Linked DNA regions of Homo sapiens: all the other regions are linked to region 3. Evidence: fine-mapped expression QTL. A gene starts in region 3. Each other region holds a variant in brackets. All regions are shown on one strand. Distances are from middle to middle. Region 1 overlaps GLP1R (glucagon like peptide 1 receptor). Region 2 has its middle 29 kb from the start of SAYSD1. Region 3 holds the start of SAYSD1 (SAYSVFN motif domain containing 1).

The links.
Region 1: its variant is fine-mapped to the expression of SAYSD1 in B cells (Fairfax 2012, PIP 0.95). The same link has a PIP of 0.9 or more in monocytes after muramyl dipeptide.
Region 2: its variant is fine-mapped to the expression of SAYSD1 in whole blood (TOPMed, PIP above 0.99). The same link has a PIP of 0.9 or more in blood mononuclear cells.

The regions. Positions count from the first base shown.
Region 1 is chr6:39,090,527-39,095,753 of GRCh38, reverse strand. GLP1R (glucagon like peptide 1 receptor) reads right to left here. Exons shown (of 13, transcript NM_002062.5): 13 at 4,451-5,227. Among named protein-coding and RNA genes, the nearest start is that of MIR9983, 19 kb to the right of the region's middle. The variant C/T (reference allele first, on the strand shown) is at 3,052.
Region 2 is chr6:39,141,523-39,146,749 of GRCh38, reverse strand. No RefSeq gene overlaps it. Among named protein-coding and RNA genes, the nearest start is that of SAYSD1, 29 kb to the right of the region's middle. The variant G/A (reference allele first, on the strand shown) is at 3,041.
Region 3 is chr6:39,112,388-39,117,614 of GRCh38, reverse strand. It overlaps SAYSD1 (SAYSVFN motif domain containing 1), which reads left to right and starts at 2,429. Exons shown (of 2, transcript NM_018322.3): 1 at 2,429-2,732. The coding sequence starts at 2,526. It also overlaps the pseudogene ANKRD18EP. RefSeq lists an enhancer at 2,546-2,835.

The DNA of each region.
Region 1 (5,227 bases), 22 kb after region 3:
GTTGCAATTACTCAACTTTGCCATTGTAGAGCAAAAGCATCCATAGACAATATATAAGTAAATGAATGAGCCAATAAAACTTTATTGATAAAATCAGGTGGTGAACCATAGTTTACTGATCTAACAAACTAAATATGCTTCTTTCTGCTTTAGGGTTTTCACTGTTGCCTTTTCTGGGAACTCACTCCCCTAGATGATCCTAGGTCTTGCTCCCTTACTCCACTGGGGTCTCTCAGATGTCACTTCATCAGAGAGGCCTTCCCTGACCATCCAGCCTAAAATAGCACCCTACCCCCATATCTCCATGTCCTTTACTGCCTTTCTCTCTCGGTAAATATTTCATTGATTGCTTCACTAATAATATTGATCTTATTTTAATAACTCTTAGAGAAAAGCATATGTGCTGACAGGCAGAGTATTCTTTATATACATGGCAGTTCATTTACAGTGGACCATCTCTAGGGACAGAAATAGCTTTGTTTTGCAGAGCTTGTTTTAATCATTTTTCTTCTAATGACTTTTCCTCTGAGATTTAGACTAAGTTTGGCAGTGCCAAACATATTGTGAAATGGCACCAGATTGGTATGAAACAATCGCCTTGTTCTAGATCCTCATCAATAAAAAAAAATGTCTTTGGCTATTCTGGCTCTTCTCATAGATTATTATCAGGTTCTGTCCCATATATAATTTTCAAAAAACTATTTCTGCAAAGAGGAGCATTTCCTAGACAATTTGCATTTTTCCCAGAATCCTCATGGCCTAATAAAAGGCTGGGCAATGCAGGGTGAGTAGGGGCCCTGTAAGAGACATTTCCTGAAGAAACATGATCATTTTGGAAATTCATGTTAGAATCTGATCGCTTTGGAGGATCCAGCCCCAAGGAAGAGAGAGAAGTCAGATTCTGAAGTTCATGTAAGGTTTCTGTGATCTTGCTGCTATAGCCTTTGGAAATCTACATCTATGCATCATTTTTAGTGCGGCTGAAGAAAGCTGTTCTTCATGTGGGTGGCCAATGCAGAGGGTGCATGAGCCCCACACTTCATTATGGAGATGACTCTAACTTGGGGGTATTACTGGGATTTGGGTGGCTTGGCATGCTCCCAGGAGATATGCACCATGGATACAGAATGTCTCAAGAGCTATTGCATTTCTCATGTAACAAGTGACAGCAAGACTAACTCAGTCATGGAGCCTGAGAGGTAAGGGCCCCTTCCTGCCAGAAGGAAGGTCTGTATTTGAGAAGCAGATGTTGTTCAAGGCTAGGAGAGTGAGTGAGAGCACTGCCGTTACAGCTGATTCTGAGACCCCACGGGTGGCATTCTTTCTGGACTTGTGGCACCACCATGCCTTGTTTGGCAGGCTTCACAATCTTTACCAATTTCTAGAAGGTGTTTTTGTAAATGCTTTATGTAGCTGGGATGTTATAGATGTTTTTCTTGACAGCTGAGAATATTTCAACACAGTATAATTCTTAATGTAACATGGTTCTTTCATATAATGAGTGTACATGAGAAATCTTTTCATCTGTATTTTTTTTTTTTTTTTTTTGAGACGGAGTCTCACTGTGTCTCCAGGCTGGAGTGCAGTGGCGCAATCTCAGCTCACTGCAACCTCTGCCTCCGGGTTCAAGTGATTCTCCTGCCTCAGCCTCCCAAGTAGCTGGGACTACAGGTGCACGCCACCACACCCAGCTAATTTTTGTATTTTTAGCAGAGATTGGTTTTCACTATGTTGGCCAGGATGGTCTCGATCTCTTGACCTCATGATCCACCTGCCTCGGCCTCCCAAAGTGCTGGGATTACAGGAATGAGCCACTGCGCCCAGACTTCATCTGTATTTTTAACTGTACCTTTCCAAAGGATGCCATTGGAAGGACATTGATTTAACTTAACTAGGGGGAAATGTCTTTGCTTTGGTGTGTGTCTCTGGTTTGGCTTCTCTAGTCTCTACTTTTAACACCAGGATTTGAAAGATGAAAGAGCTTGAGGGTGGTTTTATTGTCAAGTAGCATCTAATCGATGGGTAGCAGAGGGTTTTATTAAAGCTGTAAATTCAATTTCCTAGGAATTTTGAAGGTTCAGAAGGGTTCTGGAGGGCAAAAATATGGTAAAACACTGCTTTTTTTTCAGCCAGAAATGTACATAATGGTTACAGATTGTCAAAGACTGGAGCTAAAGGGTAAAGTAACCATGGCCTTTTTGTTGTCACTATTTAGTTTGTGTAGTTGCCAAGTGTGTTTCTAATGCAACCTTAGGTCATCGGCATTAAAAAAGTTTTGTGTAAATATCATTTACTGCCTCAAGTCCTTGCTCTTTCACCCTAAAGATTTGGAAAGTTAAAAAAAAAAAAAAGCCTGCTAATCGCCTCTGGGTGTTACCAGCCTGCATTAGCTCTAAGGCAATCCATCCCTCAGCATGGGACTCCCCAGTGTTTGTAATTCTCAGCTATTGATTTTGTTTGTAGTTGGAGGTTGTACCACAAATAAATTCTAAGGTCTATTTGTCCTACATGAGGGGGAGCCATAGTAATTCATTCTCACATTGGTGCCCAGTGTCAGTGTGAAAAAAATAAAAGTCTTGTTGGATTCACTCTGGGCCGCGGGTCTTTTTCTCTTTCCAAAATCATTGTGTTAGTTAAAATGAGCTTTTGTACAAAAGAAAATATTCTATCACCGCTTAGGATTAGAGAACGCTACAGGGAAAGAGCTCAGATTTATGGAAGATGGAGTTAATAACACTGACTGGAGATAGGGTTCCTAACCTAGTTCCTTGTCGCATGCCACTTGTAATTCTCATTCTTTTTTCCTCCTCTGCAATTTCCTCCCCTCTTTCACTACAGCCCTTTTTCACAGTTAAACAGTCTGCTATTTTTCTTTTTTCTTTATCTACTTATGTTCTGGCCTCTTCATCTTCTCTTCCTCACCTACCCTTCCCACCTTGGGGACACTCAGTTCGACTCCTTCCTTGTAGTCACACAATATTGGATCTCTGTTCCCATCTTCTCCAACCATCTGGCTGCATTTGTCATGTAGTCCAGCTTGTGCTGCTAGTT[C/T]CCAGCCCTCCCTCTCTGCCCCACCAACTATTTCTCTACTTCTGATGGGGAAAACCTCACTGTTTCCAGTCTTTCTCTTTGTGTGTATGTGTTGGGAGGGTGGGTAGGGAAGGAGGGAAAAAGGAAGGACAGAGGAAGAGACAGAGACAGAGATTGAAAGAGACTGAACTGCCATATGTTCATGGCACAGGGTTTTGAGAGGATAATAAGGGAAGGGGACAGGAGTTCTCAAACCTTGAAAATGCTGATATGCATGGCATGTGAGTGAGATCCTTCACAAACTCTATGTGGAACACAGTCTTCCCCATCTGGGGGCAGCAGTCACTAGAATATGGCTTTATATTGCATGTGAGGATGAATGAGTCTGGAAGCCAAGAATTCTCATTTGTCTCCCCAGTGGCTAGGCCTCGGAACAGCAGGGCAGCTCCCCAACCCCCTTTCTTTAGGCTGAGGTCAAGCCCTTATTAAGCCACAGTGCAACCTCAGAGAAAGAAGGTGCACTTCTACCTGATTTCTATTATTTGTAATAGCTACCTAGAAATGTGGTGGTCATTAATTGGTTTGGGTGGATGTTTTCCTGGAAGGTAGGGAGGGGATAAAAACCTCTATTTTGGTCCTGTTAAGTGGAAGGGGAAGGGCACAGAAAGGTAAGAATATCCATAGGGGAGGGAATTAACTCAAAAGCAAGATTGGTGCAGAGAAACAAATGCAGATGTTCCACCTGCTGCTATCAGGAGTTGGCTGTAGGTATAACTTGCTCTCAGGGTAAGAATTATTCTTATGTTTGAAAGGGACAATTACCACAGCTTGTCTAAAAAGCGGATGTTTAAAGATACTTTCAGGTAAGTACACCGACCTTCAAATAGGTGTAGCTGAAATGATGGGGGAATTAGGAGAATCTGCAATTCCTCTGCCCTTCTATAAGAGTGAGTTGCAAATCTGGAGAGTGAGTGATTATTTAAATTGGAGAAAAGTTCATTTTTTCTGAAGATGAATTTCTAAACAGCAGTTCCATTCAAATTCTGTGGCTGCTTTGCAAACAAAGCTTATGCTTTTATGACTTTTTTTTTAATGGATTTAATGGACTGAGTTCATTTAGACAGGAGAGATCGAATGAATGAGCGGAATTAAAATACACATCCATTTGGCCATCAGTTATTGTTTAAGCCACTCGACCACCCAACTTCTCTAATTAAATGACATTGCAGTCCCTGCATAAAGGCTGCGATGGATAAATTAGTACTTGGTGAGTGCTTTGAAGATGAAAATCACGGTGTGAGTAATGAGCAAGGTTTTTTTCCTTGGCTGGAAACGGCATCTTTTGTGTTTTCCCACTGCACTGTGAGTCACCTGGATTGACATTGCAGAAAGCCTCCTTTCGCAAAGGAAGAGCAAGAGAGACAGTAGAGACAGACTTTTATTTGGCTTACAAGGCAAATTAGGAAAGAGTCTGCATCCATTCACATCTGTACAAGGAATTATATGACCTACACATTCGCTACCTATAGAAGCTGGTCCTATTTTGCAGGAATTTATATGTTAAGAAATCACCTGGAAATGATCTTGTTTAAACACTCATGAGGAGCAAACATCCCCCAAGAGCACTGAAGATAGAAATCTATCTTTGTCCCTCCTGAGAGCTTGGCTTACCTCTCTGTTGGTGCATTTAAAGGTTTGCATCAAATCCCTCCAGAACCGATGGGATGCTGGAGTTGGTCTGCTTTGAGGATGGGATGATTATTTTAGTGGAGTAGCTTAGAACTGCAGGTTTGGAGGTAAAGTGTAAACTGTTTGGCAAGATCAAGCACTGGCTGTCTGGGGTGAATTTTGCCCTTCCCTCAATGCCCCCGTTGGCTCCCCTGCAAAGAACTCAACTTTTTATATGTTTCAAATTGTGGTGAGAGCTCTTTTCTCACCACATCTAAACATTCTCATTTAGATATGTTTTTCTTGTCCTGAATTGCTTTGACACAGCAATAATTAGTCATGCTACATTGTCTAGGCTGGCTAATTACTGATAGTTTGGCAGGCCCCGTCAGAAAGGTTGCACCACCCAATGTAAGTTAGGATCCAAGCTGGTGGCTGCCCTGCTCCTCATCACATCCAAATGTAGAATGAGGTGCGTCCTTTTCAGCCCTGACAGCACCTCACTCTCAGCTGCACCCCCAAATTGGTC
Region 2 (5,227 bases), 29 kb before region 3:
TTTTTTAGACTCCCTTGGAGCTAGAGAGATTTAGGCTGAGATACATTCAGGCAATTTTAGAAGGAAGAAGTTAACAAGAAGGGGCAGATGTGGTTGCAGTAGCCAGACACCAAGTTCCAGTTGTTGGTCACCAGCTTCATGGGCTCACAACAACCATGGTGACAGCAGCAGGGGCAGCAACAGCAGTTCCTGACCTCTGACCTGCAGCTGTGGAAATGTGATCTTGAACCATTAGCCTCGGGGTGGCCCCTGACATCTGATTGCTTGGATTAAGTCTGACTGGGGCTTGACAGAGTGGTTTCTGCTTTGTGCCCTGACTCCTACTTCTACAAAAGACCTCACTAAAAAGTGGCTTCATGATGCTCTCCTCTCTGCATTTACCCAGTAGGTTCAGGAAGGTTCCCTGGATCCTCCTTATCAGGCCCATCAGAGAGAGACAAGGCCCTGTGATTAGAGCTGTCGTGATGACCTAAGAAGCAGAGAAAGAATCAGCAATAGCCAGCCTGGCACAGAACATTGCATTAACTGCATTGGTGCTCTTGCATTGATTTAAAATCTTATCATAGAACAGAGTCCCACTAACCAGAATCTTCCATGAATATGATGTCCTGCCTCTGGATGTTGTTGAGCTCGGGGCTGGGTGTCTGTCTCTCACCAGCCAGAGGGCCCAGCCAGATTTTATTGCATTGCGATATTTATAGCTGTAAACACTTGGGTGCCTTTAAAGGAATGTCTCATTTTAAAAACCCCACGTTTCTCAAATTAGGACACAAACCATAAACTTTTCATCATAGGCTAGCAAAAAGTAGCTTCTTGACCTCCTCTGATCCACTCCCCACTGTAGTCCAGTTTCAGGATGGGGATAAGAAAAAGTGATTTATAAAACTGCCCCCAGCACTGGTAGATGAGAACCACAGACACAAGGTTATTGGGCTGGTGGGTGCTGACTTCATAATGAACCCAAAGTTGAGCCCAAAGTTGAAGGTTAAGAAAACAGAGACAGATGGACCAGGAAACATGAAGACGGACAGGATATGACTGCTGCAGGCAGGGAGGGAAACACATCCTTAGCGTTTTAATAACAACCTCATCAAGTGCCTGCTGCGGATGTTTCACATGTGATCTTATTTAATCCTCACAACAACCCTATAAACTAGGATTATTAATACCATTTTACTAACGACAAAACTGAGGTTTGGAGAGATTAAGAGACTTCCTCCGGGATCCTGGCACAAGCATGGATCCCCCGGGATCCATGAGGTGAATCTAGAGAGTGTGAGTGCAGAGCCTGGCTTGGAACACGCTGTTGATTCTGGGCATGTTCAAAGGTGTTACACCAAAGAAGCAGATAAAAACCAGTTTGGAAAATAACAAGTTTTGGAAATTCTGGGTTAATCAAAGTGAAACAGGTTGGATGTTTTGTGTGCTTGTTTTCTGCTGCAGAACTTCTCAGAGCCTTTAATGATGCTACCGTGCTTTGTGAGTCTTCAAAAAGAGGAGCAATTATGCAGTTCTTCTTGAATACCTTTGAGCGCTGAACACATTTCTCATAGGGCATCTTCAGGGCTTAGTATCCCTCAAAGCACATTTTGGGAAATCCCACTTAGCTGAACTCAGGCCAAACTGTGGTTCATCAGTGTGGCTTGACCTAAGTGGGGGTGAGTATGTGACTGAGATATGTTTGCTTCTGTCTACTGTCCTGCACTATCATTGTAGAGGAGAGCATGGTTGCCTGTCTGAATTCTGGGCCACTAGTGACTCCAGTCCAACATCTCCAGGAAATGTGAAGTGGGTGAGAAAACTGGCAGTGGTGGAAGAGAAGGAGCCAGGAGGCAGAGAGACTGATGGAGAGACAGGGCCTTTGAGAGATGTCCAGGGACAAAGAAGAGTCTTTTCTTTTCACACAGGGTTTATGAAATTGTAATTTCCTGAAACAGTATTCTACATTCAATCTCAGAATATCAAATATCAAGCAACTGAAATGGAGAGAAACATGTGTCCAGCAGTGGGTAGTTTTCAGTGCAGTTAAGAATAAACATGGACAGTGAGTAGCCCACACACTGAGAAGGGAGGTCTCAATGAGAGGGGTTATCATTAGGTGAGTTATGCCAGAGTGCTCATAATTTGTGTTTATTTTTATTTCCTATCCTTCTGATAAAGACAGCTGTTATTTCTACACTGCTTCAGACAGGGCTGGCTACATAATTTGTGGGGCCCAGTGCAAAATGAAAATGCAGCGCTCCTCATTCAAAAAGCAGAACAAAAGTGCTGTTACATATACAAAAACAAAGAGCTTTCTCCTTTCTTCTGCAATCCCTCAACTTGTGGTGCTTTTTATTTGCTATTTAAAGTACAAAGAGGGAGCCAGGCATGGTGGTCCACACCTGTAGTCCCAGATACTCGGGAGGCTGAGGAAGAAGGACTGCTTGAGCCCAGGCATTCAAGAGCAGTCTGGGTAACTTAGTGAGACCCCATTTTAAGTAAAGACTAAGTGATATGGTTTGACTGTCTCTCCACCCAAATCTCATCTTGAATTGTAGCCCCCATAATTCCCACATGTTGTTGGCAGGGTGGGTGGGAGGTAACTGAATCATGGAGGAGGTTCCCCCATACTCTTCTTGTGGTAATGAATGCGTCTCACGAGATCTGATGGTTTCATAAGAGGTTTCCCCTTTCACTTGGCTCTCTCATTCTCTTCTCTCGCCTGCTGCCATGTAAAACGTGCCTTTTGACTTCCACCATGATTGTGAGGCCTAGCCACGTGGAACTGGGAGTCCATTCATCCTCTTTTTCTTTATAAACTACCCCGTCTTGGATATGTCTTTATCAGCAGTGGGAAAACAGACTAATACATTAAGTAACTATGTAAAGAAAAACAAAGAAGCGTAAATTCTTAGCCTAAAGTTTATGATTCATTTTTATATGGTACAGTGCCAGTTTTAGATGCAGATTATTAAACCAAGAACAGAGGCTTCTGAGTGAAGGACTCCGCGCGACCGCACAGGTCACATGCGCGGAAGCCAGGCTTGGCTGCAGAACA[G/A]GAAGAAACATGACTTTTGTTTTCCAGCGTTCAAGCAGCTGGTTTTATGCACTCCAGACAGACAGTGTGATCGGGTGTCTGACATTTACAGTGTTTCTCCTGTGGGAAGCTAGGGTACATTTTTGAGCACCATCTCTGAAAGATTATAATGACCGCTTCATTAGAGAGAGAAAGAGGAGTCTGCAAGAAAAATGTTTCCCTTGCACTTCTTGAAGCTGTAAATGTCACTGCTCATTGTACGGAAATGCTACCAGGGCCAGGGCTGATAAGCCAATCAGGTAGCCTCCGGCAAAGGCATTTCATAAACACTGACTGAAACTGGCCTGGTAGCTTCAGGGCCCAATGGACTACACCAGGTGAGAGACTGAGAAATGGTTTCCTCGGGAGAGAACAAAACACCACCCTTCCACCTAGGAAGGGCAGGGGAGCTGGACATTACAGGAGACAGCTGTTTTCTTTCTAGAAGGTGTGCTGGGACAGAGTTAAGCCTGCATATCTGCCTTTTCCTCTGACTCCATCTTTTCCTGCTACACGAGATATCATGCAAGCATGTTGATGCCTTATGCCTTAATTAGAATTAACGTTCCCAGCCACTGGTGCCTCTTCTTTGCTTGTTTATGAAGTTAACACTTAACGATCCTCAAACTTTATGAGACTTATGTTATTGTCCTCATTTTCCTGATGAATAAACTGAGACTTCAAAGGATGATGTGACTGATGGAGGTCACCCAGCCAAAGTGGGTTTCCCTGAGCCTGGGGGCCAGGTCTGGCTGGCTCCAAAGTGAATCCTGGTCCTCAATCTTTCCCTGCCCCTGTCCATCATCCTGAATCTTGGCTCAGCATCACAGCACCGGCTGTGGATCTGTCTGCGGGATTCAGAGGGGCTAAGGATTTTACTAAATACCAACTGTACACAAACACACACACACATATAAATGGTGTAAATAGATATCTTTAGAGTCTGGGCACATCCCTTTGAATATCCTTCATGGTGGCAAATCTTTTCCTCTGAAAGTATATTTGATTTTTCAAAATGAATGAAAATTATTTGGAGCCTGATAGTTTAGTGGGCTGTGAATTTATTCTGCAGATAAAGTGGTAAAATAGGTAATTGGGATGTGGAAGGAATGAAAGGATAAAGGTCTGTCTGTCTGTCTGTCTGTCTGCGCGTATGCACATACGCCTTTTTTTTTTTTTTTTTTTTTTTTTGAGACAGAATCTCATTCCGTCACCAGGCTGGAGTGCAGTGGCGTGATCTCAGCTCGCTGTAACCTCTACCTCCTGGGTTCATGCAATTCTCCTGCCTCAGCCTCGTGAGTAGCTGGGACTACATGTGCGCCACCATGCCCAGTTAATTTTTGTATTTTTAGTAGAGACGGGGTTTCACCATTTTGGCCAGGATGGTCTCCATCTCTTGACCTCGTGATCTGCCTGCCTCGGCCTCCCACAGTGCTGGGATTACAGGCGTAAGCAACCACGCCTGGCCCATATGCATGTGTTTTACCACCTACCCTGAGCCCAGCATCTTGCTTGGTACTGCTTTCTGCGTCCTTGTCTTATCTGTGTCCACGCTCTGAGGTGGATATTATTATTCCCAATTTCTATAGGTAGAAATTAAGGATAAAAGAGATGAAGTTACAATCCTCCAGTAGTTCACAAAACTGAAACTGGAATCTAACTTGCCTTAAGGGAATGAGAGCCTTTTTTTGGATAAAAATAAAAAATAAAAATAAACAAAAAGAAAGAAGACATTTGTTTCCTCTAAAGCGATGAGATGATTGTCTTATGTGGTCCCAGAACTGGCTCTGCAGATAATTCTAAACCATTCTGAATATGTTTGGAGAAACGGCAGCACCACTATCATAAGAGTAAAATTTCCAAAGAGACTTCTCTAATGGGCACAAACCTCACTTGGCTGTGTCTGCATTATTTTTGTTTTAAATCAGAGAATTTCCTAGTCATGCTTTGGTTATAGTTCTTTAGAACCCAGGCTTTAGGCACTAGAATGAACCCTGGAGATCCGCTTGTTCAGCACCGTCATTCCCGGGAGGCACCCTCAGCTCCGGAGATGAGCTGAGATGAGATGAGTACCTGCTCAGGCGCCCACAATGGCTAGGGGCAGAGCCTTCACTCAACCCAGGAACTTGACAATGCAGTGCTGCCTCCCCACAGCACACCGCTTCCTCC
Region 3 (5,227 bases):
GCCCACAAATTGTATGCCTTAATTCTATACACCTGCAAGATGCGGGCCTAAGGTCTTAGAGTCATTATCAAGTGGGAGACAAAATCGGTTAAAGAATCCCATCTCTCAAGAGAAGCAGACATACTCCTGACACCAAAATGGGCAAGAAATTTCCTCTTGTGGTTTCTCAAAGAGAGGACATTGTGGTGTAATAATCCCATTCTTTTCTCTTACAAACCATCTCTAATCCACTCAGGGCTCAGCCCTCAAATCTCTTCTTATCCACACTCACTGTTTGATCTTATCTAGTCTTACAGCTTTAAATATACACATGCTGATGACTCCCAGTGTGTGCCTCCGGTCCTGACTTTCCCCTCAAATCATTTTCACTATCTAACTGCCTATTTTTTGGATATCCAATAGGCATCCCAAGTTCTTTGTATGTCCAAAACAAAACTTCCAGTGTTTATTCTGTAATTCTCTCCTCCCAGTGTGCCCTCATTTCAATAGAGGGCCCCAGCATCATTTGCCTGGTTGCTCAGGGCATGTGTGTATGTATATGGGGGGGCAGGAGGAGTGGGGTAGTAATGGAAGAAACCTGTCATCCTTTTTTTTTTTTTTTTTTTTTAATAGCGATGAGGTCTTGCTATGTTCCCCAGGCTGGTCTTGAACTCCTAGGTTCAAGCGATCCCCCTGCCTTGGCCTCCCAAAGTGCTGGGATTATAGGCGTGAGCCACGATGGCTGGCCCTGTCATCCTTGATACCTTTTTTCCTCACATTCCACATCCAATCCGTCTCACACCATGTTGGCTCAGGTCTTCAAAATACATTCAGAATCTGACCAATTCTCGTGACCTCCATCACTACCACTCTAGCTCAAACTACTACAGTTTCTCATTCTACCATATTTATTCCTAACTAGTTTCCCTTCTTCTATTCTTGCAATCTTCCAGGGTCCCACCTCCATCAGCCAGTGTAATCCTTTAAAAATATGTCATATCATATCATCTCCTGCTCAAAATCCACTAACTGCTTCCCACCACACTTAGTCTTCACCATGGCCTACAGGGCCTTACATGCACGATCTTGCCCCTGGCATCTTTATTTTCTGTCACTCTTTCCTCCCTCCCTCCCTCCCTCTCTCCCCCTCTCTCCCTCCTTCCCTCCTTCCCTCCCTCCCTCCCTGCCTCCCTCTCCCTCCTTCCAATCCAGTCATAACAGCCTCCCTGATGTTCTGTGAACAAGTCAAGCGTGCTATTTGAGGCCTCGGGACCTTTGCACTTGTTCCTCTGACTGAAACACTCCTGTTCAGATATCTACATACCTCACTCATTTAAGTCTATGCCCAAATGACAAACCTTCAGGGAGGTCTTCTCTAATACCTCCACCATTGCCTACTTTGCTTCACTTTTCTTCACAGCACTTATCAGTACCTGATATGACATGAAATATGTAGATACACATTTGTTTATTGTCTGTATTTCCATTTGGAGTGTAAGCTCTAAGAAAACAGGTTTTTGTTTGTTTTTTCCTTTCATCCCAGCATCCCCAGTGCCTGTGACTTTAGACAGAGCAGGCCCTAGGTAAACGTCTGTTAAATGAATGGATGACTCTGTTCTAATTTGTCTAATTTCTCGAGTCACCCTCAGCCAGATCCAACAAATATTTGAGTCTTAATTATGTAAGTGACACTTAGCTAGATGCTTACAGCTTTAAGAACGTATAAAACAGCCCCTAACCTGAACTGTGTCCTTTTGGGAGGGTACTGATTGGGAGAGGGCACAAGGAAACTCCCAGAGTACAGAAATGTTCTTTCTCTCCATCTGGGTGGTAGTTACACAGGTGCATACATAAGAGCAAATCTACTGAGTCATATTCTTAAGATGTGTATTTTATGTTGCACCCCAATAAAAGTTTTTGTTGTTGGTTTTTTTAAGGTTCTGACGTATCTAGACACAAAACGAGATAATTTCCCAACGTGGCAAGACCAATGATGGAGCTGCACAGCCTGCTTTGTGAGCAGTGAGAAAGTCACCCTCCAGGTACTAAGATTGGCATACCCTTTCCTTGATAAGAGAAAAAGGGTAAGATGTAGCCTGTTATTCCTCTGACGCTGGAATGTCGTAGAGATCACGGGCCTCTCCTAACCCCTGGAACCATCTTCTCACTGTGGCGCTGTTCATTGGGGCCCAGCAACAGAGATCCCGAATACAGGACGCTGGATCAGTGGGGCCTCGAGCCCTTAAGTGAGATGCAGCAAGGCAGAGCGGCCTTTGGGAGAGGGCAATGGGGCAGCCCTGTGCTTTAGACTTGGCTTGAGGAGGTGACACTGTGTCCACGTGCCTGTGAAGAGAGAACGGCTGAGTATACACGCGACCCGCCAGACTTCACAAACGGAGGAGACGCGGGTCACACCAGTGCGCATGCTCAGCAGGGGCTTCTGCCACGCAGGCGCACGGCGGCCGGCGCGGGCCGAGCGGAGGCAACTGCTGTGCGGCCTGCGGGCGCGCGCTCCCTTATCGGCCAACGGACGCGAGGCGCGCGCCATGGAACAGCGGTTAGCTGAGTTTCGGGCGGCGCGGAAACGGGCGGGTCTGGCGGCCCAACCCCCTGCTGCCAGTCAGGGCGCACAAACCCCAGGAGAGAAGGCGGAAGCAGCAGCGACTCTAAAGGCAGCCCCAGGCTGGCTAAAGCGGTTCCTGGTATGGAAACCTAGGCCCGCGAGTGCCCGGGCCCAGCCCGGCCTAGTTCAGGTGAGACGATGGAAACTTCGGCCCTAGGACCTGGCCTCGGAGCCACAGTCGAGGGCGCGGCCCTAGCTGCCGGGGGTGTGGCCCTAGCTGCCGGAGGCGGGGCTACTGGCCCCCCATCCTGATCGAGGGCCGGACCGCTCATCTCCGGCCACACGTGTCAGCACTGTTACCAGTTTTGACATTTTCTTTCCAGCCCGCGACCCACGCAGGTCCTGATTCCAGCGAGAGTCGAGGGTCCTGGGAGAAAGCACCTCTGCTCTTAAATTATTCACTCCGAATTGAGTTATCGTGACGCCCTGTGGCATTGGGAAACCTCTCCACAACCAAGTTGAGCCACAGCCCTCTGCTAATGGAGGAGGGTAAAAGGTCTAATTGGATACCGATCACAAGTAGCAGTAATTAAAACTTCATTTGATTCGCACCTGGGGCACATGCAGCTAGTAGCCCAGATAGCCTGTGACTTAGAAATGCGTTTGAATACAGAATTTACCAAAGTGTGGTAGCTGTAACTGCCGGTAGTGGCAGAAGCTTATTCCAGTTCCATAGTGAATGTTCAAGACACAAACAAAAAAAAGTGATTTAGTATGATAACCTTTTCACATTTAATTGTTTTGGTAATCTCTTGTTTTGCAGATGAATTTAATTTGCATCCTTTTGTGTTTTCATTTAGTTTTAACTCAGTAAAATGGTAAGGTGGCTTGCAGTGAGGTTGAAATGTCTATGTGGAAATACAAGACAAAACATATCAAGGGATGAGTGCTTTGTAACAATTTGTGCCCAGTGCTTTGTTCCTCATAAGTGCAATAAGAACTAAAAAATTCCTTTTAAAATGAAAATATACTGGAAGAAAAGTGTACCTTGCTCACCTTAAAATTATTTCCTGTAAGTTCATCTATTATTGCACAACATTTGATTTGAGGGAATTTTTAAAAATTACTGAACCTATTACTCAATTTTGATTTGATATTCTCAGTGATATACAGGATTCCAGCTGACTTGCAGAAAGGTGAAAAGAGCGCAGCAGAGTTCAGACAATCCATTTCCTTGTGTGCAGTTTGTGTTAATTGTCTTTGGATAATTTTATTGTTGACTAGAACTTTCTAAGTACAACACTTGCTTAAGATTTTAGAAACCATTTCCCTTATTCTTTTTCTCTCTGCAGTTAAAAAACAATGTCTAACCCATGCAATGAACTTTTGACTGTATGTCTCATTTCCAAAGGAATGAGATCATTGAGGTGGACCCAGAGAAACTGAATTCAGAGAAAAACTTCCATTATTGAGAACCCAAACGCTGATTGCCAGACAAAAGGATGAGAGGAAATGCTGGACCTCCAGTTTCTTGTTAATTGCTCTGTTTTTCCATAAGGGACTCTGCCTTAAGCTCATTTTCATTGACTTATCATTTCTGGGTTTGCTCTGGTGTGAAAATTCTCATTTAATTTTTTTTCTTCAGATTCTGCCTCTAGTTTAGAAAAGAAAAAGTCTAATTTACAATTCATGTCAGACAATTTTGATGGCACACTGTGGCCTGTCAGAGATTTCTTTAGCATTCTATTTTTTTAAATTATTTTTAATTTTTGTTTTTTTAATTGAAACAGCTTTATTGAAATAAGGTTTACATACTACAGAATTTATCTCTTTTAACATACAGTTCAAAGATTTTTAGTAAATTTATTGAGTCATGCAACCATCACTGCAACTTTAGAACGTCTCTATCACTCCAAGAAGACCCCTCTTGCACATTAGCAGTTACTACCCATTTCCAACCCCAGCCCCGCACAAATGTCAGTCTGCTTTCTATCTATACATTTGTCTTTTCCGGATGTTTCATGTAAATGGAATTATACAGTATGGTAAACACATTTTTTGTCTATTAATTTTTATATTCAACTAGGTTCAACATGTAGCCGTAGCCAAATATTTTAAATTTTCCTTCTGGAAGTTTGAAAATATTTATCTTTTTTGATACTTACTTCTCCTTCTGCTTTCTCTTTTTCATACTGAAACAGTCTTTTAAATGATTGCATTCATTGATTAATTCCTTATTTTTCCCTTCTAGCAGAAGACCTTCCTTTTCACTCTCAAGACAGCATCCTTGGATATTAATTACCTTTTGTTCATTATCCCCTTTCTTATGAGCACCATCTAGTTGTTGAAGCAACAGATTTTCATGTTGTAGTTGAGATATTCTCTCCTCTACGTAGTCCCACTTTCCAAAGGATTTACTTGGCTTAGGTCCTTTTGTACACTTTATAAAACCAAAACCTTTTCTCTGAGAGAATTTCTTGTGTCATGGAGTTTACTTTTTAGGGTATTGAATTCGAGCTTCGGAAAGTTGCTCAGTTAAAAACTCATTATTATCTTTTAGTTCAGAAATATCAGAACTCATTTTCTTTCTTGTAAAGAAACGTCTTGTGCTCTCTGTAAAGCAAGTTCTAGGTCTCTTTTTGTTTTCACACTTTGATCACACTCACTTATAGCAGCAGCCAGTCT